Linked DNA regions of Homo sapiens: all the other regions are linked to region 1. Evidence: fine-mapped expression QTL. A gene starts in region 1. Each other region holds a variant in brackets. All regions are shown on one strand. Distances are between the middles of the regions. Region 1 holds the start of AHCY (adenosylhomocysteinase). Region 2 has its middle 32 kb from the start of BPIFB1. Region 3 has its middle 12 kb from the start of EIF2S2.

Region 1 (8,181 bases):
ATCTTTTAAAATTTAACAGGTACTATTCACAATAGCAAAGACATAGAGTCAACCTAAATTCCCATTAATGGTAGACTGGATAAAGAAAACGTGGTACATATACACCATGGAATACTATGCATGCATAAAAAAGAACAAGATCATGTCCTTTGCAGGAACATAGATGCAACTGGAGGCCATTATCCTTAACAAACTAACCCAGGAACAGAAAACCAAATACAGCATGTTCTCACTTATAAGTGGAAGCTAAATAATGAAAACACATCAACAGAGAGAGGGAACAATGGACATGGGCCCTATTTGAGGGATGAGGGTGAGAAAAGGGAGAGGTTTAGAAAAAAAAAAACTTAGGTGCTGTGCTTCGTACCCAGGTGATGAAATAATCTGTACACCAAACCCCCAACTCACCAGTTTACCTATGTACCAAACTGGCACAGGTACCCCTGAACTAAAATAAAAGTTAAAAAATTTTTTTAATTTAATGGGTGACAAAACTTTGCCATACACTCACCAACAATGAACATTATCATTTGTAATTAAACCTTTTATTTTGAGATAATTGTAGATTCATGTGCAGTTGTAAGAAAACACAGGGGGCTGGGCACGGTGGCTCACGCCTGTAATCCCAATACTTTGGGAAGCCAGGGCGGGCGGATCACCCGAGGTCAGGAGTTCGAGACCAGCCTGACCAACATGGAGAAACCCCATCTCTACTAAAAATACAAAATTAGCTGGACACGGTGGCATGTGCCTGTAATCCCAGCTGCTCAGGAGGCTGAGGCATGAGAATTGCTTGAACTTGGGAGGAGGAGGTTGCAGTGAGCCAAGATTTTGCCATTGCATTCCAGCCTGGGCAACAAGAGCGAAACTCCGACAAAAAAAACAAAAAACAAAAAACAAAAAAACCTCAGCATGTTGGGAGGCTGAAGCAGGTGGATCATTTGAGGTCAGAGGTTCAAGACCAGCCTGGCCAACATGGCGAAAGCCCATCTCTACTAAAAATATAAATATTAGCCGGGTGGTAGCGACATGCACCTGTAATCCCAGCTACTCAGGAGGCTGAGGCAGGAGAATGGCTTGAGCCTGGGAGAGGTGGAGGTTGCTGTGAGCCTAGATAGCAGACCCTGTCTCAAAAAAAAAAAAAAAGAAAAAGAAAAAAGAAACAAAGAAAACACAGAGAAATCCCAATGCCCTTTGCTCGCTTTCTCCCAATGGTGACATCTTGCAAAACCATAATAAAACATCTCAACTAGGATACTGACAATGATAAAGCAAGATCCAGAACATTCCATCACCACAAAGTTTCCTCATGTTGCCCTTTTACAGCCACATTTACCTCTCTCTTGCTCCCGTCCCCTACCTAATACCTGGCAACCACTAATCTGTGGTTCATTTCTATAATTTGGTCATTTCAAGAATATTATAGAAATGAAATAATATACTATGTAATATATTGGAATTGGTTTTTGTCACTCAGCATAATTCTCTAAGGATTCATCCAGGTTGCTGCATTTATCAAAGTTTATTCCTTTTGCTGAGTATTATTTCATGGTATGGCTGTACCAATTTGTTTAACTGTTCATCCATTAAAAGAACCTGGCTGGGCGTGGTGGCTTACACCTGTAATCCCAGCACTTTGGAAGGCCAAGGCGGGAGGATCACTTGATGTCAGAAGTTCAAGACCAGTCTGGCCAACATGGTGAAACACCGTCTCTATTAAAAATACAAAAATTATCCGGGTGTGGGAGCGTGTGCCTGTAATCCCAGGTACTTGGGAGGCTAAGGTACGAGAATCACTTTGAACCTGGGAGACAGAGGTTGCAGTGAGCCGAGATCACACCATTGCACTCCAGCCTGGGCAACAGAGAGACACTCTTTCTCAAAAAAAAAAAAAAAGAAGCTGAAATAATAGGAAATTGGCTATATCAATTGCAATATATCCATAGGCTAGAACATTCTGCTGCTAGAGAGGTTGCATAAGGCCAGACTAAGGTGCTTAGACCTTCTCCTGAGACCAGCAGTCTCCAAAGTTTTGTTCATATGAACTTAACGGTACAAATATTAGCAAATATCTCATTAGCTGATATCTCAAAGCACGATATACAGTGAGGATGAGAGTCATCATTAATTAATGAGAGGGCATGTAAATTCACATTTCTTTTTTTTTCTTTTTTTTTTTTTTTTTTTGAGGCAGTCTTGTTCTGTCACCCAGGCTGGAGTGCGGTGGCGCAATCTTGGCTCAATGCAACATCCGCCTCCTGGGTTCAAACAATTCTTGTCCCTCAGCCTCCTGAGTAGCTGAGTTTACAGACGTGCACCATCACGCCCGGCTAATTTTTGTATTTTTAGTAGATACAGGGTTTCACTATGTTGGCCAGGCTGGTCTGGAACTCCTGACCCCAAGTGATCCACTCGCCCCGGCTTCCAAAGTGCTGGGATTACAGGTGTGAGTCACTGCGCCTGGTCCGTAAATTCATATTTCAAAGTGTCTTTTTCATTGTTTTCTCAAATTTTATTACATTCCTTACAACATGGCTGACAAAGACCAGCATTCATACCAGAAAGAGACCTGTCAGCTGTGTCCTTTTCTACTTGTTTGCTGTGCTGGTAATTTTCACAGTATCTGGAACTTGCCATTTCTTTGCAGGAATATTTTGAAGCCATTTTTCTGTTCTCGTAGGACAACCTAGTAACATGATCCTACGTTTAGTTAGACTGACACGACTCACTACACACTGCAATGCACTGCAGAATGCTGAAAGGGATGCGTGAGGACCCTGCTGCCCACCTCCCAGGCGTGGACCCTCGTTCCCTCAGGAAGTCTCTGCTTGACATCGGCCCTCATGACTCTCAGACAGAGGTCAGATGTACAGATCAAGTGAGACCAATACATTTACTATGTCATAGAAGACCTTAATTCTTATTTTTATTTTTTATTTTTTGAGACAAGAGTCTCCCTCCGTCGCCCAGGCCGGAGTGCAGTGGTGCGATCTCGGCTCACTGCAAGCTCGGCCTCCCGGGTTCACGCCATTCTCCTGCCTCAGCCTTGCGAGTAGCTGGGACTACAGGCTCCCGACACCACGCCCAGCTAATTTTTTTTTTTTTTTGTATTTTTAGTAGAGATGGGGTTTTACCCTGTTAGCCAGGATGGTCTCGATTTCCTGACCCCGTGATCCGCCCGCCTCGGCCTCCCAATGTGCTGGGATTACAGGCGTGAGCCACGCGCCCGGCCAGAAGAGTTTAATTCTTTTCTCATTTTTAGGTTAAAAAATGAGTAGAGGCCGGGCACGGTGGCTCACGCCAGTAATCCCAGCACTTTGGGAGGCAGAGGCTGGCGGATCACCTGAGGTCGGGAGTTCGAGATTAGCCTGACCAATATGGAGAAACCCCGTCTCTACTAAAAATACAAAATTAGCCAGGCGTGGTGGCTCATGCCTGTAATCCCAGCTACTCGGGAGGCTGAGGCAAGAGAATCGCTTGAATCCGGGAGGCAGAGGTTGGTGTGAGCCAAGATCATGCCATTGCACTCCAGCCTGGGCAACAAGCGCCAAACTCTATCTCAAAAAAAGAAAAAACAAAATTAGCCAGGTGTGGTGGTGCGTGCCTGTAATCCAAGCCACTCGGGAGGCTGAGGCAGGAGAATTGCTTGAACCCGGGAGGTGGAGGTTGCAGCGAGCCTAGATGGTGCCACTGCACTCCAGTGTGGGCGACAGAGTGAGACTCCATAAAAAAAAAAAAAAATTCAGGGGAAAAAAAGCAATTAAAAAAACATAACTATAAAAATAATACAAATTACAAAACAACCATTTGCATAGCATTTACATTATATTAGTTATAAGTAATCTAGAGATGATTAAAGTGTACGGAGGAATGTGCATAGGTTATATGCCAATACTGCCTCATTTTATATGAGGGACTTGAACATAGAAGGGTTTTGGAGTCCACAGAGGTCCTGAAACCAATTTCCCCTTCCCATGCCTGGGATGACTGAATTATACAGCAGCAAAAATGAATATACTCAAGCTATATGCATGAGTCTCATAAATATAATGCTCACAGAAAAAAGCAAGTTGCAGAAGGGTAAATACGGTTGATATATAAAGGTGCTAAACACAGAACTATTTAATGATATACGGATGCAGTAAAAGTATAAGAAATGTATGCAAACTTACTTAAATTCAGGGTGTTGGTTACTTGGAGTAAGGCGAATGTTTGGGATGTCAGTAGGTACCTGACAAATGGCAACTTAACTTTGTTTTGGTTTTTTTGAGATAGGGTCTTGCCCTTTCGCCCAGGCTCAAGTGCTGTGGTGGGATGATAGCTCACTGCAGCCTCGATCTCCAGGCTCAAAAGATCCTCCCTCCCGCCTCCGCGTCCCAAGTAGCTGGGACCACAAGCGCGCGCCACCACGCCCGGCTAATTTTTAATTTTTTTTTGTAGAGTTCAGGTCTCACTGTGTTGCCCAGGATGGTCTTGAACTCCTGGGCTCAAGCGATCCTCCCGCCTTGGCCTCCCAAAGTGCTGGGATTACAGGTGTGAGCCACCGCGCCTGGCCTGCAACTTTACTTATAATAATCTGTGTGGCAGATGTCATTTGGCCCATTTTACAGATGAGGAAATTGAGGCACAGGGAAGTGAACTGGCGGAATTTCAGTTCCGCTGGGTTTTGACACTGAATCAACTGGCTGAACCAGCGAGAGGACGGCCCGGCTGGCTCTCAGGCCTCTCCCGGCGCTCCCTTCCGGACCGGTGAGTGAGACTCCTGGGGCCACGCCTTGTGAAATTCTGAGGCTTCTTTTCAGGGATCGAAATCCCCTCCGGCTCCGCCCTGCGCGTTGGGCCCCGCCCCAGCGGGTCATGAATATGCAAGTGCGAGGAAGATATTTAAAGGCGTCGGCGCCACGCGCATATCCCTGCTCGGCGCTGCCCGCCCAGTTCCTGTTCCCAGACTGAGGCCCAGCCCCCTTCGCCCGTTTCCATCACGAGTGCCGCCAGCATGTCTGACAAACTGCCCTACAAAGTCGGTGAGTCCCAGGACCTGCAGCCGGTTGCGGCCGCCCGGCACCCGCCCGGGGCTTGTTCGTGGCGGGGGCTGCAGGGCCGACTCGGGGCTCTCTGGACCCCCTGGAATCGCAGCCTCGGCGCGTTTCTGGCCGCGCGAAGCCAGCTGGAAGTTGGAGTTCTCGCGCGGCCATGAGCGGGCCGTTCCGGGTGGCCGTGGACTACAAGTCCCAGCATGCCCCGCGACGCCGGGGCCGCCGCGCGGTCTGCGAGCCGCAAACTGGCGGCGTGCTCCGCGGGAGAGCACACCTGGCCACGGCCTGGGACGGCTGGCACCTGCCGGACCCTGCTCGGGGGGCCTGCGCCCGGCCTCCTAGGCCTGGACCGGACCCTGTCCAGCTGGGCGGCCCCGACGAGCGTCCACCCCTCTCTGGGCCTCCTACAGGGACGGCGAGGGCACCCCGGAGGGTGTATGAGGAGAGGCCTGGAAAGCGAGCCCCAGGCCGGCTCCGATCCTCCTCTCCCCTGGGACTTTGGGCCAGTTACCCAACCTGTGGGGTCCCCCACCCCTCCAGCAGGGGCAGCCTTGCAGAAATCTCGAAGAAAATTTGGAGTGGTTTGAAAAATCCTGCTGTCCCACCGATTGAAGTGTAATACAGGGATAGTTAACGTTTACTTAGTGTTTCCTGTGGGATCGGCACTGCCTTCTAGCTTTATTCTAGTCTCATGGCTCTATAGGGAAACTGTTCTCATTTTATGATGAGAATCCTGAGGCAGAGGTAACTTGCCCTCAGTCTTACAGCTGGTGGTGATGGAGCAAGATTGGAACGCAGGCCATCTAGATCTCTGAGCGCACCCTTTCACCACTGTGTGCAAGCGAATACACGCGGAACAATCCTAGTGAATTTTCAGCAAAAACCAGTTCAGTTTGGCTGGTAGCTTTTCAAGTAACTTTGACACTATTGGACCGGGTGTGGTGGCTCACCCCTGTAGTCCCAGCACTTTGAGAGGCCGAGGTGGGCGAATCACTTGAGGTCAAGAGTTCGAGACCAGCCTGGCCAACGTGGTGAAACGCTATCTCTACCAAAAATACAAAAACTAGCTGGGCGTGGTGGCGGGCGCCTTCATTCCCAGCTACTCGGGAGGCTGAGGCAGGAGGACTGTTTGAGCCGGGGAGACGGAGGTTGCAGTGAGCCGAGATTGCACCACCACGCTCCAACCTGGGCAACAGAGCAAGACCCTGTCTCAAAAAAAAAAAACAAACAAAAAAAGACACTATTAAGTCTGGAGAATGCCATCCACATTTATGGAAACACTTGCTGTATATCTGGTGATTTACGTGTGTTTACACAATAATCTTCATAGAGGTGGACGTAATCCCGTTATATAGAGCATGAAACTGAGGCCCTTGGGAGGTGACTTGCAAAGATTCTGTTGAAGTAGTTCATCAAGTTGCTACCAGAGTAGACTGTCTCCATTGTGTGGATGCTGAAACTGAACCCAGAAAGGTTATGTGAAGGTCACATCAATAGTAGAGCTGGAATGGGGGCTTGTCATACTGTGGAGAGATTAGTGGGTCAGGATTGGGGCCATTGGGTTGTGTGGGTGGAGATAAAGCTGGATTTGGGGATGGGGAGCTTAGCTGGGTGGGGCTGGAGGAAGGAGGCCCTGCTGTATGCCAGATCTTGATCATATGGCATTATCTTTACTTAAGGCGCATAGCAAGCTAGGGATGATTATCCACACTTTACAGATGAAGAAACTGATGTTTACAGGGGCTCTTGCTGTTCCTCTTGGCTTGTCCTGGGGACAGGTGTTCCTGTGACTTTTGCAAGTCCTTAGCTCCAGAGATTGCAGCATCTAGCCTCTCCTGTGCCTTTGGAGTTGAGGGTCCCAGGGAAAACTGTGGGGCTGGCACAGTGTCCTCGAGGGCACTGAAGGAGTTATTTTTAGCTGGAGGGACATGTGGTGGTGGAGGGGTGGAGCTTAGCAGCACAGGGCATAACCCATTGTCCCATACAGCCGGGCCCCTCCCAGGAGGGGCCTTGAGAGGGGCCTCTGCTCTAGCCCTGCCTGGCTGCCAGTTCTGGTTCTGCGGTTAATTGGCTATGGAACCTGCAGCAAACTCCTCTCTGGGTCCTCTCTGGGTCATTAGTAAATGCTGGGACTCAGACTAGGTTCAGATTTGTGTTGTTTTTCTTTGCCACCCTTGTCACGTGCCAGCCCCTCTCATGGATCTTTCATTCAGTTCTGAGGACAGATATGGTCGGTAAACAGTTGCTGACCCCTTCTCTGAGCCAGGTCATGCTGGAGACACAAAGGTGACCCAGAGACAGGGGTGGCACAGACATGCATACAGATAAAGTAGTATTGTCTCCATTTTATGTGAGCAGATCTGCCACTTGTCTGTCTCCACGGTCACCACCCCAGTCTGGTCTCTCTCCTTGCAGGTCTCCCTGGATCTCTTGCTCCGCAGATCCACACAGCAGCCAATGGGGTCTTTTCAAAAGACAAATCTGGTCTCTGAATGCTGGCCCCTGAAAACTGTAGGTTCCCCACTTCACTGGGACTGAAGTCCCAACTCATCTTATGCCTCTATTTGAGTCACCCTGGTGCACTCTTGGTTCCTCTAGCAGGGATATACTAGGTTCTTTCCTGTTTCCAGGTTTTTTTCAGCACCTACTGTGTGCCAGGTACTGTATTAGGTGCTTGAGAGGAGCCTTCCAGGCCGAGAACTGCTTGGGTTAAAGCCCTGAGGTGGAAATGAGTGGAGCTTGCCTGAAGTCAGTCAGGAAGCCTGTGTGTTGAACAGCTAGTGAGTGGGGAAAGTGGAGAGATGGAGGAGGGGCAGGCAGTCATGCAGATAGGGCCCGAAGATTGAGGGAAGCCATTGGAGGGTTTGCTTGTTTAGTTTTGTTTACTTTAGTAGAATGATGGAGGTGATGTAACTTAAATTTTTAAGAGCCTCCCTCTTCTGGCTGCTGTGGGGAGAATGGCATGTTAGAGCATGGGACCAGTGAAGAGAGTGTGGCAGTGTCCAACTGAGAAGTGGCAGTGTATTTATTTCTTTATTGTTTTTTTTGGAGACAGAGTCTCCCTCTCACCCAGGTTGGAGTGCAGTGGTGCTATTTTAGCTCACTGCCACCTCCGCCTCCCAGGTTCAAGCAATTCTCCTGCCTC
Region 2 (8,181 bases), 990 kb after region 1:
GGCTCTGGTGGGTTTTGTTTGTTTGTTTGTTTTTGAGATGGAGTCTCAGTCTGTTGCCCAGGTTGGAGTGCAGTGGTGTGATCTTGGCTTACTGCAACCTCTGCCTCCCAGGTTCAGGTGATTCTCCTGCCTCAGCCTCCCAGTCAGCTGGAATTACAGGTGCGTGCCACCACACCTGGCTGATTTTTGTATTTTTATTAGAGACTGGTCTTTACCATGTTGACTAGGCTGTTCTCGAACTCCTGATCTCAAGTGATCCACCCGCCTTGGCCTCCCGAAGTGCTGGGATTACAGGTGCGAGCCCTCTTGCCTTACCTGGAGGTTTTGTTTTGAGACAGAGACTTACTCTGTTGCCCAGGCTGGAGTCGCAGTGTCACAATCATGGATTGCTGCAGCCTTGAACTCCAGGGCTCAGGTGATCCTCACACCTCAGATTCCAGGGTAGCTGGGACTACAGGCACGCGTCACCATGCCTGGCTAATTTTTGTATTTTTTGTGGAGATGGGGTTTTATCATGTTGCCCAGGCTGGTTTTGAACTCCTAGGTTCAAATGATCTGCCCATCTTGGCCTCCCAAAGTGCTGGGATTACTGATGTCGGCCGCTGTGCCTGTGACAATATGTTTCTGTTGTCCAGGGTGCTCAGTTTGTATTAATAGTACTTTGTTATGGCAGTCCTCACAATCTAATACAATTGGGAAACCCAGATTTTGATTAAAATCTTCTTGATTTTTATATGTTGGCAATTCATTAAAAATATTTTTCAAAAACCTATGTAGGTTTGCAGAAAACCCAGTTGTAGGCTGAGTGTAGGGAGCAGGAGGGCTGCCGGGCTGAGGTCCCAGATTGAGACCCTACTTTCTTCCTAGGAAGATTTCAAGCAGCTTGGAGAGACATAGGGTCAAGAAAAGTAGACTTGCTTAGCACTTTCCAGGCTATAGAGAACCTCCAAAGACACCGTGCTGAGAACACAGCTGCTCAGGGTACCAGGAAAGGCCAGAGGCAGTCCTAGCCCTCCACTTATCCACCTGCCCTGAGTAGCTCCCACAGCAGGGGGAGGCTCTTCCCTGAAAGCAGTTCCCCGACCGACCTGCGACAGGTCCAGCCCACTGCTCTTCTTGGAGAGGCGTTTGCCTACAAAGGGCAGGTGGTCCAGGACAGCAACACCTTTGCTCCTGGCCCCTGTCACAGGCAGGCTGAGCATGCAGTCCAGGGTGTAGTGCTCTGAGAACAGGTCTGAACTGTCCGAGGATGCAAGCCCCGCTTCAGTGTGGGGCTGTACTGTTCATTCAACCTTTCACCAAATTCACTCAGTCATTTGGCAGCCAGCACTTACTGAGTGCTTACTCTCTCCTGGGCTCAAGGGACAGAAGCAGTGTGGCTCCTGCCCTCATGGAGTTTACTTCCTGGTAGGGAGAGAGACAAAAGCCGAGCACTCAGATCAGCAAGCAAGGCAATATTCCAGAGTGATCTGTGCAAAAGAAAAAATACAGTGGAGTCGGAGCATGACTGGGTGAAGATCTGTTTCTGATGGGGTGAAAAGGAAGCGCCTCTCTGAGGAGGAGGCCTCTGAGCTGAGGCCTGAGTGAGGTGGAGGAATCCATCATGCAGGCTGATCTCGGGGACAGCCATGGTGGCAGAGGGAACAGAACGTGCAAAGGCCCTGAGGTGCTGGTGAGCCTGGCGTGGTAGGAAACAGAAAGATAAGTGAGGCTGCAGCGTGGCGAGCGGGGATGGGGCTGGATGGATGACAAACAGCTCAGTCAGGAGTTAGGGACAGAGGCAGCCAGCCCTACAGACAGATGGGACAGCAGGCGCAGCACACTTGGATAAGGCCGCAGAGGAGACGTCACCAAAGGGCTGTGGGAACTCAGAGGAAGGAGAGATCCCTTCTGCCTGGGGAAATCGAGAGGAATTCCCAGAGGAGGTGGTTAGAACTTTGCGTTCAAGCATGGGCCCAGATGCACCAGGTTGAGCAGGAGAGAAAGGCATTTCAGGCCAGAGGAACAGCCTAGCACAGGAGGGAGCTGTGAAGTCTGTGGGGGTGGTCAGGGAAGGAGGCAGTGGAAGAGGCTGGAGATGCAGGGCCTTGAATGCCAGGATAAGGGGCTCAGAGGTTCTCCTGAGGGCACTGAGGAGCCATGGCAAGTGTTAGAGCAGGGGAGAGACAGGATCAGCTCTGGGTGAGGTAAGGTGAATTCTGTGGCAAGGGGGAGGCCTGTACAGGAGAAGCATTGAGCAGGGAGGTGGTGCCGTCTCCCACCCCTGGCCTTTCCTGAGTTCATGCCTCTGACGCTCACCCCTTAACATTTACCTGTTTCCCACTGATTCTTGTCCTCTGAAGGCAGAGTAGGTGCTGGGCCTTCCCCTGGGCCTGGGGCAGCAGCGTCCAGCAAGCAGTGACATCCAGAGCAGCAGCATTCTCTTGGCCAGGACCTGCAGACACAGAGGTGGGAGCCTTGACGTCCTCACCGGGGCCCTGTCACTGTGTATCTCCCAGCTCTGCCTCTCCTAGGACCATCTCTCCAGCTTTCCTTCCCTTGCCTCTGCCCCCAGCTCCAGATCCGCTAGTCCTCGAACACAGCCTGCACTTCCTGCCACTGTACATTTGTGCTTGTGGATCCCTCGGCCTGGAGTGCCCTTCTCCAGAGCGTGGGCTGGCTTCAAAGCTGGGCCCTGCCACTTCCTGAGGGTGGGACCTGAGCAAGTCACAGGACCTCTTCATGCCTCAGTTTTCTCATCTGTAAAATGGGGACAATTCTAGGTCGTTGTGAGGAATATGTTCCATAATATGTGCAAAGCACTTAGCAAGCAGTGAGTGCCCAACAGCTGTTAATATGGTTGGATGACATTGTGAGAGGTTAAAGGATGTATTACTTCCCCCTTTTTTTTGAGACAGGGTCTTGCCTTGTCACCCAGGCTGGAATGTAGTGGCACAATCTTGGCTCACTGCAGCCTCGACTTCCCAGACTCAAGGAATCCTCCTGCCTCAGCCTCCAAGTAGCTGAGACTACAGGAGCATGCCACTATGCACAGCTAATTTTTGTATTTTTAGCAGAGGCTAGATTTCGCCATGTTGCCCAGTTTGGTCTCGAACTCTTGGACTCAAGCGATCCTCCTGTGTTGGCCTCCTAAAGTGCCGCGATTACAAGTGTGAGTCATTCCTCATAGCCTAGCACTTCCTTTTAACACTGGAGGCTTCTGGATCTTGAGTTTGCTATGGGATAGAGGTTCTGGGGGAGGTGTCAGAGAGGTGGTAGCGGTAGGCACCTGGGGGGCTTAAAGCTACAGATCTTTACCAGCTAGCAGAGAAATATTCCAAACACTGCATTTGTACCACCAGTTCCTACCAGCAGAACCTCAGCCCTGCCACGTGTCTGAAAGGGCATAGCTGGGACCCCAGAATCTGCAGGCAGGGGCTGTCTGGGTGGGCAGGAGCATTCCACTAGGAAACGAAGCTTCTGGAACTGCAAGGCAGGGACCAGCCAAAATGCAGACATCTCTAGGGCAGATGTCACTATAAACAGGGCCCACAGAGGAGCTACCATTGCCCTCCATGCCATGCCCATGAAGAAGCCACCCAGAGGGTAGACGCTGCCCTTGAGCAAGGCGAGGAGACCCCTGAAGTGGCTAAGCCTACGCTGGAGTGCCTTAGAATGTCCTGGCATTGCCTTGAGTATCCAGTTTTTTGCTACTTGGTGGCACAGGATTTCAAAACAGTGACCAAATCGGATAACGGAAAGAGAATGGTTTTGTGTTTGTTTGCATACACAAACTGCTTTGTATTGATTGGGCTGTGAAATTTGTGCTTGTGGCATTTGCTCTTCCAAGCTGATGTCAAATGCATCCACTATTCATCCAACCAGCACTTAGTCAGTCTCTGTGTCAAACACTTTTCTCTATCAGTTCACTCAAGTCAGATCTCTTTCCCCCATTGCCCTCAGCACAGCACACTCATCTTTCCACCCTCTCCACTTCCTGGGTTGAGCCAGCCATACCGACCCTGACTTCTGGAGTCCATACTATGTGCCAGGCACCATGCTGAGGGCTGCACAAGCTTCATCGCATCATTGAGTCCTCACCCCAATGGTCTCAGATCATTGATATCAGGCCCAAGATACAGATGATGAAACTGAGGCTCAGAATGGAGAGATAACTTACCCAAGGTGACACAGGTAGTGAGTGGCAGAGCCGGCATTCCGGCCCAGGTTCGCCTGGTGCTAAAAATCTGTGTGCCACTTCACAACGTTTTTATAGGTGCTCAAGAAATATTTGAGAAATGCCCCGTTGACCTCCTTGGCCTTACATCTCCAAGAATGGGGTTATCTGGAATCTCTCCTTGGCCTCTGTCTCCAGCTTCCCAGAAAGACAACTTTTTTAACCTGAGCTCAGAAGCCCAGGCGGGTGGGTACCCGGGCAGGAAGTCCAGCCCCTTGGCCAGGCTTGCGGCTCAGAGGAGCTCTTCAGTGGAGGGAGAGGTCCTCTTGGCACTGGGTGGCAAGGGGCTTCTGGCCAAAACTGAGGCTGGAGGGGCAGGCCCTGAGTCCTGGACCAACAGGCTTTAGGGAGGAGGCGGGTGGGGCCCTGTGATTTTGAGAGTGGGTCATTTCCGTTTGGAACGTCCTTGGAGCTGTGGAGCCCTGGTAGGGACCCCAGCTCTCGGGAGGGGCCCTGCGGGGGCTCCTAGTACAGGATGTGGCAGTCATAGAACCCACGGGAGTGATTGTGTGGGGGTGAGGCAGAGGGAGGAGAGCAGGTGGGTGGCAAGGGCCAGGCAGGGGGGCTCTGGGGTCCACCTTCTGGTAGCCATTCTCTATAGTCTTTTAAAAAATTTTTTAATTTTAAAATTACTTTCAAGCTCTGCCGAGTCTCAGGACCTATGCCCTTTCTGTCTAGGTTGTCCAAGCCATCAGTTTTTGCTATGACGTGGTCACCAATGGCATGGTCTCTGCAGCCAGACAGGCCTGGGCTCAAACTGCCACCTTCAATCAGGAGCTGT[G/T]TGACTGTGGGCAAGTGGCTTTCTCTTCTGAGCCTCACTTTTCGTGTCTGTAACATGGGAATGATAGATCCATTTATGTCTTTTTGGTATGGTGAAGGTTCGTTAAGGCAACTCAGTACAGGGCCTAGCATATAGGAAGTGTTCAAAAAGTTATTTCTTTTAACTTCCATTTTATGGATGAGAAAACTGAGACTCAGAGACGTTAAGTACCTTGCTCTGGGTCACACAGCATGTCCATGATAAAGCTGGGATTTGAAATCAGGGCCCAGAGAGGGGTCTGACCACTCAGTGAAAGAGAAATTTGGTGTCACTATGCCACGCAGCTCCAAGACTCGGAGACCTAGCTCCCAACCAAACTGCTGTGCCAGGGTCCTTTGATGTGGGAATCCTGGCATCCCCACTGCGAGTGTGCACAGCTGGCTGTGTCAGCATTGACGGCTTCATTAATTGCTGTCTAGTATGGGCACCCCAATGGCAGGTGTGACTCTTCTCTAGGTGGATTTTGGATTTTTCACAGGGTTTCCTCCTGGGGTTAATGTCTTTCCCTTTCACAACTCAGAGGCATGGACAGAGCAGGTGTTAAACTGTGTTCTTTGGCTGGAGACCTGGGGCAGAGAGGCTGACAATGGAAGGGCAAGTTCTTTTTTTTTTTTCTTTTTTTGAGATGGAGTCTCTCTCTGTTGCCCAGGCTAGAGTTCAGTGGCGTGATCTCGGCTCACTGCAACCTCCGCCTCCCAGGTTCAAGTGATTCTCCTGCCTCAGCCTCCCGAGTAGCTGGGACTACAGGTGCGTGCCACCATGTCTGGCTAATTTTTGTATTTTTATTAGAGACGGGGTTTCTCCATGTTGGCCAGGCTGGTCTCGATCTCTTGGCCTCGTGATCTGCCTGCCTCAGCCTCCCAAAGTGCTGGGATTACAGGCATGAGCCACCGTGCCCAACCTGAAGGGTGGGGTCTAGAAGACAGCAGCTGTGCAGGAAGCACAAGGTCAATGGCAGCTCTGAAGTTCTCGTTTTGGCTAACCTCAAAAGCAAAGGGCTAGTGTCAGTATTAAGTTGCTGCATCAACCTAATATGACTTGGCAGCATAGATTAGATGGGATATTCTTATTTTAGAATCTCAGATTTTTTGGGTTAGAATATGATTTAAGAGTTGATAGGTCCCCTTCATTTCTGCAAACTGGGTCTCAATATTATTGTGAAGGGCTGTCTTCCTTCTGCCAAGGGCAGAGAAAAGCTCTTGGGTTAACTGCTCACCTGAGTCACCAGGAAGGCGCAGGGTGTTAGTGGAACCACTGAGGTCTTCTTTCCTTCCCAAATCTGGTCTCTAAATGAAAAAGACCGGAGCCCCACGGCCTCCATATGCTTACCTCATTGACTAATCTCTGCTGAGAGATGGGAGGTTTCATGGGGGTGTCTTCCACAAAAGGGAAGCCCTAGGCAGGACACGGAGATGGGCAAGACACTGTTACTGCCTCTCTCTGAGCCTCAGTTTATTGATCTGTAAAAGGGGAATGCTCAACTCACAGGAAGTAGATAACACTGTGCTGGGAGCAGAGGCTGCTGGTTGTTACCGTTATTTTGAAGAAAAAGAAAACTGGGGCCCGGCGCGGTGGCTCATGCCTGTAATCCCAGTACTCTGGGAGGCCGAGGCGGGTGGATCACTTGAGGTCAGGAGTTCGAGACCAGCCTGGCCAGCATGGCGAAACCCCGTCTCTACTAATAACACAAAAATCAGCCGGGCATGATGGCGCATGCCTGTAATCCCAGCTACTCGGCAGGCTGAAGCAGGAGAATTGCTTGAGCCTGGGAAGGCGGAGGTTGCAGTGAGCAGAGATTGCACCACTGTACTCTAGCCTGGGCGACAGAGTGAGACCCTGTCTCAAAAAAAAAGACATAAAGAAAGAAAGAAAATTGGATCTATAACCTGCTGTGGATTCAGCTGGGAGGCTCAGGGCAAAGTGGGTGAGGCCTGGGTTCCCGCCCCAGCCCCATCACATCACCAGCTGTTTGTTACTTCATCTCCCATCTGTAAGACAAACACAGTACTAATTCCTGCAAGGCACGATGATTTAATGAGATCTCTTGGTGTTTTCTCTTTGCTGCTGCTGCTAAGACAGCAGGAAATTGAGGAGTTTTCCTCCCGCAGCCCAGCAAGGCAGTGGAGTCGTGGAATTCCCAGCCTGGAGGAGCCTCAGCAGTTCATGGAGGGTGGTTGTGTTTCAAGGCCCAAATCAGGAGGCTGGCACAGGAGAACAACCCCTCTCTTTTTTTGGGGGAGGTGGAAACCCAAGTGGGTAGGCGATAAAGGAGCAGAGAGAAGAAGGAGGTGGTGTGGGGTAATAGTTGGGGGCTGCTTGGGAGTGGTGCAGAGTTGTCAGAGCCTTGGTTTCTTCATTTGTCAGGTGCAGGTGTGGGGGGAGCCTGTGCCACAGGCGCTGGGGAAGGTGGCGTGACCAAAGGTCTGGAAGATCCTTAGAATAGTGCCTGCCTGGAGCAAATGGCTATCTTGATTGAGGTTCACCAGAAGCAGACCCTGAGAACAGGATTGGAGTGCAGGTAGTTGATTTGGGAGATGACCCCAGGGAACACTGGTAGGGGAGTGTGGAAGTGAGGTGGGGAGGTGAGGCAACCTATAAAGAGCATATTGGGCCGGGCATGGTGGTGCACATCTATAATTCAAGCTACTTGGAATGTTGAGGCAGGAGGATAACTTGAATCTAGGAGTTTGAGGCTGCAGTAAACTGAGATTGTGTCATTGCACTCCAGCCTGGGCAACAGAGCAAGACCTTGTCTCAAAAAACAAAACAAAACAAAACAAAACAATACAAAACCAAACCAAACCCCAAACCACACCCCCCCCACCAAAAAAAAAAACTGTGTCAGCACGCTGGTTATCAGCATGGACAACTGGGGCCCAGTCCCGCTGGTGAGCTGGGAGCCTGTCTACAGCAGGTGTCCTAGAGTTGTTCCCTCCCCCAAAGGGTGAGGAAGCCAGGGTTATGTATCTGCTGACCCCCAGGAAGCCCCAGAGGGTGTGGGTGATGGGACGCGGAGGATATACGGCTCGGGCTGTTTTGGAGAAGGATCCCTGTGCCCCGCTTGGCTGGGGTGGAGGAGCTACTTGACTCTGACAGGGTCACGTGGACTGGGACAGGGATCCCTTCATCAGGACCAGGTGGGACC
Region 3 (8,181 bases), 180 kb after region 1:
GCTGTGCCTGGATGTGCACAATCGCTAGATTTATGTTTAAGCTTACATAAACACCTCAGTGCAGTAAAGAGTAACAGAGCAGTATTGCCGCCATGATGTCTCATCTCCAGCCATAAGGAGGTTTTCTCCTATCTCAGTAAATAGAATGTATGGTCGGGTTTTACACCGAGACATTCCATTCCCAGGGACGTGCAGGAGACAGATGCCACACTCTTATCTCTACCGCATAGAGGCCTTCCTATTTCACTAATCTCCTTAGCACAGACCCTTTACGGGTGTCGGGCTGGGGGGCTGTAAGGTCTTTCCCTCCCCACGAGGCCATATCTCAGGCTGTCTCAGTCCGGGGAAACCTGGACAATACCCAGGCTTTCTTGGGCAGGGGTCCCTGCGGCCTTCCACAGTGCATTGTGTCCCTGATTAATAGAGAATGGAGAATGGCGATGACTTTCACAAAGCATACTGCCTGCAAACACATTTTTTTTTTTTTTTGAGAAGGAGTGTTGCGCTGTCGCCCAGGCTGGAGTGCAGTGGCACGATCTCGGCTCACTGCAAGCTCTGCCTCCTGGGTTCATGCCATTCTCCTGCCTCAGCCTCCCGAGTAGCTGGGACTACAGGCGCCTACCACCACGCCCAGCTAATTTGTTGTATTTTTAGTAGAGACGGGATTTCACCGTGTTAGCCAGGATGGTCTTGATCTCCAGACCTCGTGATCTGCCCGCCTCAGCCTCCCAAAGTGCTGGGATTACAGGTGTGATTTTTTTTTTTTTTTTTTTTTTGAGACGGAGTCTTGCTCTGTCACCCAGGCTGGAGTGCAGTGGCTCAATCTCGGCTAACTGCAAGCTCCGCCTCCCAGGTTCATGCCATTCTCCTGCCTCAGCCTCCCGAGTAGCTGGGACTACAGGGGCCCGCCACCACGCCTGGCTAATCTTTTGTATTTTTAGTACAGACAGGGTTTCACCATATTAGCCAAGATGATCTCGATCTCCTGACCTCATGATCTGCCCGCCTCGGCCTCCCAAAGTGCTGGGATTACAGGCATGAGCCACTGCGCCTGGCTGCAAAAACATTTTTAACAAAGCACATCCTGCACAGCCCTAAATCCCTTAAAACTTGAGTCAATACAGCACATGTTTTTGTGAGCACAGGGTTGGGACAAGAGTTACAGATTAACAGCATCTCAAAGCAGAACAATTTTTCTTAGTACAGATCAAAATGGAGTTTCTTTTGTCTTACTTTTTCTAGATAGACACAGTAACAGTCTGATCGCTCTTTCTTTTCCCTATACATTTTGAGTTGATTTTTTGCGTATGGTGAGAGACAGGAGTTTAGTTTCATTCTTCTGGATATGGATATCCAGTTTTCCCAACAACATTTTTCCCCAATGTATGTGCTTGGTACCTTTGTCAAAAATCAATTGGCTGTACGTGGATTTATTTCTGGGTTCTCTTTTTGTTCCCTTGGTCTGTGTTTTTATATCAATACCATGCTGTTTTGGTTATTAGAGCCTTGCAGTATATTTTAAATTCAGGTGGTGTGATGCCTCTAGCTTTGTTCTTTTTGCTTAGGATTGCTTTGACTATTTGGACTTTTTGTTCCATACAAATTTTAGGATTTTTTTTCTGTCTTTCTTGTTTTACTAGAGCAAATCCTCCAGTGCTTTCCTAAGAAAAGTTATGTGGGGATGAGGGGTAAATTTCTGATCCTTGCATGCCTAAAAATATACTTATTTATTCCTCATACTTGACTGATAATATGGCTTAGTATAGGAGTTCTAGATTGAAAACGTATTTTCTCTCAGAATTTTGAAAGCCTCCCTATATCGTCTTCTAGCCACTAATGTTACTATGGACAAAAATGCTATTCCTATTACCTGCTCTTTCATAAGTAACCTGTTGCCCTTTCCCTGCCCCCTCCTCACCTCCTATCACCAAGATTTTTGATTTTCTCTTTATCCTTTGTGTTAAAAAATTTCATGATGATGTGCCATAATGTTTTTCCTTTGTTTTGTTTTCTTTCATTATGCTGGGCACTCAGCAGGCTCTGCCACTCTGGAAACTCAGTTTCTTTGATAATTTTCTTCCATTTCTTCTGTATTTCCAGAACTCCTGTTAATCTAATGGTCGACCTTATGGATTCATCCTCTAATTATCTTTTCTCTTTTATTTTTCCATTTGTATTTCTGTTCTACTTTCTGAGAGATTTCCTCAACTTTATATATTAAGACTTATATAAATTATTTATTTTTCTATTATTATTATTTGAGAACAGGTCTTGCTGTATTGCCCAGGCTGGAGTGCAGTGGCATGATCATAGCTCACTGCAGCCTCCATCTCCTGGGCTTGAGCAGCCCTCCTGACTCAGCCTCCTAAGTAGCTGGGACCACATGCATGAGCCACCACAGCTGGCTAATTTTTTTTCTTTTTTTATTATTTATTTATTTATTTATTTATTTATTATTTTTTTGAGATGGAGTCTCGCTCTGTTGCCCAGGCTGGAGTGCAGTAGTGTGATCTCGGCTCACTGCAAGCTCTGCCTCCTGGGTTCATGTCATTCTTCCGCCTCAGCCTCCCTAGTAGCTGGGACTACACGTGTTCGCCATCATGCCCGGCTAATTTTTTGTATTTTTAGTACAGATGGGGTTTCACCATGTTAGCCAGGATGGTCTCGATCTCCTGACCTCGTGATCCGCCCGCCTCGGCCTCCCAAAGTGCTGGGATTACAGGCGTGAGCCACTGAACCAAGCCTAATTTCTCTTTTTAAAAGAATGTTTAGCAGAGAAGAGGTCTATCTAATATTGCCCTGGTTGGTCTTGAACTCCTGGCTTTAAACAATCCTTCTACCTTGGCTTCTCAAAGTGCTGGGATTACAGGCATGAGCCATAATGCCCAGCCAATTTTTCTATTATATTTTTAATTCCCCAGAGCTGTTACTTACTCTATTTTTTTTAGAGCATTTTATCTTTGCTTTATGGATGCAGTATTTTCTATTATCTCTCATAGACTGCTTATTGTTTTTTAAAAATATTTTTCTGTTCTCTTCAGTTTCTGTTCCCTTTGAGTTTCTTTTTTCTCTATTTGATGCTGTCTTTCCTGGTGGAGGTTTATCTTAAATATCTGGTGACCCTTTGTTGTCTCTTCATATTTAAGAGTGAGTCACTAAGTATTTGGAAGCTCTGTGTTAACAGGAAGTTTATCTGTAGGATGATAAAGTGGGTACCTAGGTGTTTTGTTGGGGGACCTCAAATATCAGTATGTATAGATCTTTCCTCTGGGGTTAATTAATTAAAATTAATTCCCTGATATCTTGCCTGGAGAATACAAGCCTTGCTGTCAGCATTCCTGGAATAAATTTCAGCAGGAGGACTGAGTGCGCTTCACCATTCAGCATGTAGACAATTCATCTAATCTCTGTTTTCAGTCTGAAATCCTCCTACCTTAGCCTCCCTGCTATTATATCTTTAGCTGTGCCTGGTATCTCAGTGTCTGGAACTTCTCTACCTCAATTTTGTCCCAGGGGCTGCTAGGGAGATGAAAGGGTAGTTGTCTAAGTGAGTAGGATGGAGAAAAAGACCTGGCAGTTTCACTTCCTATAAAGGCTTTCAGCCAAACCCTCTCTCTTCTGCCTCTCACATCACCTCTGATCTGCTCTGTCCCAGTCCTGACATTCTAGTGTTCTGCAGTACGAATCTGTTTGTCCCTTGTTAGTATAACCCTCAGCAAACATTTAGAATTGTTTTCTCAGCTCAGCTATGGTTTTCCATCTTCCAAAAATTTGTTGATATCCTTAATCTGCTATTGATTTCTTTCTTATTCTCTTTGTCTGTAGACTGGTAAACCTAAAAATGTTAACTCACTGTCACTTCAGTGATTTGGGGAGTGAACAGGGATAAACATATGTGTTTAATCTGTCCAAGCATAAACAGAAGTGCAAGACTGTCAAGATGTCCACTCTTTGCTCCTATTAAAAAAAGTTAGAACCAGAAAATTCATAGATATGGCTGGGCGAGGTGGCTCACGCCTGTAATCCAGCACTTTGGGAGGCCAAGGCGAGTAGATCATGAGGTCAGGAGTTCAAGATCAGCCTGGCCAAGATGATATAACCCCATTTCTACTAAAAATACAAAAATTAGCCAGGCACAGTGGCAGGCGACTGTAATCCCTCCCAGCTACTTGGGAGGCTGAGGCAGAAGAATCGCTTGAAGCTGGGGGACAGAGGTTGCAGTGAGTCAAGATTGCACCACTGCACTCCAGCCTGGG[C/T]GACAGAGTAAGACTCCGTCTCCAAAAAAAAAAAAAAAAAAAAAAAGAAAATTCATAGGTAAAATATAGATAAAATTCTACTCTCATAGGCCAATGTGGAAAAAGTAGGAGTCTGAGAGTTGCGGTACATGTGTCCAAGCCCTGTTATTATCATTTACTGGTCTGAAGCTAGGTAAGTTAAATTTTCTGACCATCTGTTTCCTCATCTGTAAAGTGGTGATAATCATCCCTAGATAGTCTATCTTACTTGTAATGATGAAGTAAAATAATTGATATAAATATATAAACATCAAATATATATCATTTATCATAAACTCTATTAGAAGTAGGCACAGTTAAATATATTTTCAGAGGCACTGTAACATAGTAGAAATAATATGGGCTTCAGATTCACACAGACTTGGGCTCAAATTCCATCTCTGTTACTCACTGGGTTATGTTGGGTAAGTGACTGACACTCTCTGAGCCTTCATTAACCTGTTTATAAAATGGGTATAATACTTTTAACCTGACAAGGCTGTTGTTGAGTATTAAATGAGATAATGCATGTAACATCTATAGGGCCTGACACTTAGTAAGTACTCAACAGATATTAATTCTTCCATGTTGGCCCCTAATTTGAGACCAGCTTTTTTTTTTTTTTTCAGGCTTAATTCAGTTTGTTTTTCTTGTATAAAAACCCTATGCTGTAGCCACAGCTGGAGCCTGGGTCCTCTGCATGGAGACTCTGGTGTGGGTCTTGACGAGGTGGTCAGTGAATTCCTGATAGGGAGACTTGGTGAATATAGTCTCCTTCCAGAGGTCGAGGGTCAGGTAGCTGTAGGTCTTAGAGATGGTGTCAAAGGTGGCCTTGGCGAAGTTGCCAGGGTGGCAGTGCAGCCCCTGGCTGAGGTGTGGCAGTCATCAATACCAGCCATCATGAGGAGCTTCTTGGGCACAGGTGCGGAGACGATGCCAGTGCCCCTGGGTGCAGGGATGAGGTGCACCAGCACAGAGCCGCAGCGGCCTGTCACCTTGCAAGGGACGGTGTGGGCTTGTCCATCTTGTTCCCCCGTAGCCTCTGCGCACGGGGACAATGGAGTGCTTGGTCAGGATGACGGACCCGCGGATGGCAGTAGCCACCTCCTTGGAGCACTTAACGCACAGACCGACGTGGCCATTGTAGTCCCCGGTGGCAACAAACGCCTTGAACCTGGTGCGCTGGCCCGCGCGGGTCTGCTTCTGCACCGGCATAATCTTCAAACCCTCTTCCTTGAGAGAGGACCCCAGAAAAAAGTCAATGGTCTCAGATTCCTTGATGGGCAGGGAGAAGAGACATCCTCCAGGTACTTGATCTTCATGTCCTTGACCAGGTGGCCCAGCTTGGTGACGGGCATCTACTCCTTATCCTCGGCCTTGCCTCTGCGAGCTCCATGGCCTCGGCTCCGGCCCAGTCCACGGCCATGACCCTGGCCCCGGATGCCACCGCCGAAACCTCCGCGGAAGCCACCGCGGTTCCCCATCCCTCCCAGGGCTTGCGGGGGCCTCCGCCCGGCCTCCGCCCGGCCTCCACCCGACCTCCGCACCCCACGCCCTGCCGCCCCCTGCACAGGCGTCATCCGCCATTTGGGGATTTGTTGAAGAAGAGCTTTTTTATACTAACATGAAAATCCTGAGCTTGTATTTCATTAGTTCATGCTAAACTACATTGATAATTAGCATCTTAGATCATAAATAGTCCTCATAAAAGTTTATTTATTTGCTGTTTTCCCAGGACCAAATTATAAGGTGAATAGCCCAAATTAAAAGGATTCCTCATACAAGACCTTTGAAGTCAACTGGCTATTGCTGAGGCATCTTTAGCATTTCATTATGAAATAAGATGTGAAACTTGTAACAAATATCAAGAGATCAGAGGCTCTGGAATATTGAGAACAACTACAACTCAAAAAATTATTTTAAACGTTTGTTTTTTTTGGTTTTTATTTGATCCTCATACAAATCTAGACTCCACAGTCTTTTTTATCCTGTTTAAAGATGAATTAACAGAAACAATGAGTAAAGAAGCTTCCTTTACTCAACTTCCTTGAGTACTTCCTTGAGTTTCAAGGAAGTCTCAAATTCCTTGAGACTGATCTATCTGTGGAAAACAACCAAGAACTCCAACCTTGGTCTTTTGTCTCCCAGTTTAGTGCTCTCTTTTTAAAAAATATGGTAAAATACAAATACCATAAAATTTATCTTTTCAACTATTTTTAAGTATATTCACATTGCTGTACAACCAATTTCCAGAACTCTTTCCATCTTGCAAAACTGGAACTCTGTACCTATTAGACAACAACTCTCTCTTCCCCCCTCTCTCCCTAGCCCCTAGCAACCGCCATTCTACTTTCTCTTTCTATGAATTTGACTATTCTAGGTACCTCAAATAAATGGGATAACACAGTATTCGTCTTTTTGTGGCTAGCTTATTTCACTAAGCATAATGTTCTTGAGGTTCATCCATATTGTGGCATGTATCAGAATTTCCTTCCTTTTTAAGGCTGAATGATATTCTATTGTATGTACACACCATATTTTGATTACCCATTCATCCACTGATGGACACCCGGGGTGCTTCTCAGGTATGAATAATGCTGTTGTGAACATGGACATAAAAATATCTCTTTGAGACACTGCTTTCAGTTTTGTTTTGTTTTTTTTTTTTTTCTGAGACAGAGCTTCGCTCTTGTTGCCCAGGCTGGAGTGTGATGGCACGATCTCAGCTCACTGCAACCTCTGCCTCCTGGGCTCAAGTGTTTCTCCTGCCTCAGCCTCCTGAGTAGCTGGGATTACAGGCGCCGGCCACCATGTCTGGCTAATTTTTTGTATTTTTAGTAGAGATGGGGTTTTACCATGTTGACCATGGCTGGTCTCAAACTCCTGACCTCAGGTGATCCGCCCACGTCAGCCTCCCAAAGTGCTGGGATTACAGGTGTGAGCTACCATGCCCAGCCCTTTCAGGTTTTTTTTTTGTTTTTTTATTTTTATTTTTTAAATATACGTAGTAATTGAATTGTTAGATTATATGGTAATTCTGTTTAAAAATGTTTGAGGAACCACCATACTCTTTTCCATAGGGCTGCACCATTTTACAGTCCTGCCAACATACACAAGCGTTCCAGTTTTTCCACATCTTGATAATATGTGTCATTTTCTGGAGGTTTTTTTTTTAATTAATAGCAATTCTACTGGGTGTAAGGTAGTATCTCATTGTGGTTTTCTTAAGAGTTTTGAAGTCTTCTGTACAGATGGCAAGATACTAAGTAACCTTGGATAACATCATCAAAAAACATTCATATTCTTTTTTTTTTAATTGATTTTTTAAAAGAGAACAGGGTCTTGCTGTCACCCAGGGTGGAGTGCAGTGGTGTGATCATAACTCACTGCAGCCTCGAACTCCTGAGCCCAAGAGATTCTCTTGCCTCAGCCTCTTGATTAGTTGGGGCCACTGGCACATGCCACCATGCCCGGCTAATTTTTTTTTAATTACTTTTTTGTAGAGACAGGGTCTCACTATGCTGTCCAGGCTGGTCTCAAACTACTGGCCTCAAGCAATCCTCCTACTGTGGCCTCCCAAAGTGTTGGGATTACAGACATGAGCCACTGCACCCAGCCTCAACAAATGTTTACTGAGCTCCTAATAGGTGCTATGCACTGTGCTGGGTACTGGGGTTATAAGTCTCTTAAGAGCAAGGGAGAAAGATGGGCAATGAATAGTGACCAAGGTGCTGAGTGTATACAAGGTACACTTAATTACTTCTTACTGAAAGTCTGCTAATCTTTCAAGAAGACTATCAGGTGCTTTTATGGCTCACGCCTGTAATCCCAGCACACTGGGAGGCCGAGGTGGGAGAATCACTCGAGGCCAGGACTTTGAGACCAGCTGGGGCAACACAGTGAGACC

Evidence for each region. PIP is the estimated chance that this variant, and not a neighbour inherited with it, causes the effect.
Region 2: its variant is fine-mapped to the expression of AHCY in prefrontal cortex (CommonMind, PIP 0.95).
Region 3: its variant is fine-mapped to the expression of AHCY in whole blood (TOPMed, PIP 0.97).

What each region holds. Positions count from the first base shown.
Region 1 is chr20:34,300,086-34,308,266 of GRCh38, reverse strand. It overlaps AHCY (adenosylhomocysteinase), which reads left to right and starts at 4,912. Exons shown (of 10, transcript NM_000687.4): 1 at 4,912-5,024. The coding sequence starts at 4,997. RefSeq lists enhancers at 4,548-4,667, 4,688-4,737 and a silencer at 5,308-5,537.
Region 2 is chr20:33,311,107-33,319,287 of GRCh38, reverse strand. It overlaps the pseudogene BPIFB5P. Among named protein-coding and RNA genes, the nearest start is that of BPIFB1, 32 kb to the right of the region's middle. RefSeq lists enhancers at 6,617-7,117, 7,118-7,618. The variant G/T (reference allele first, on the strand shown) is at 4,998.
Region 3 is chr20:34,120,047-34,128,227 of GRCh38, reverse strand. It overlaps the pseudogene RPS2P1. Among named protein-coding and RNA genes, the nearest start is that of EIF2S2, 12 kb to the right of the region's middle. RefSeq lists a silencer at 3,465-3,534. The variant C/T (reference allele first, on the strand shown) is at 4,257.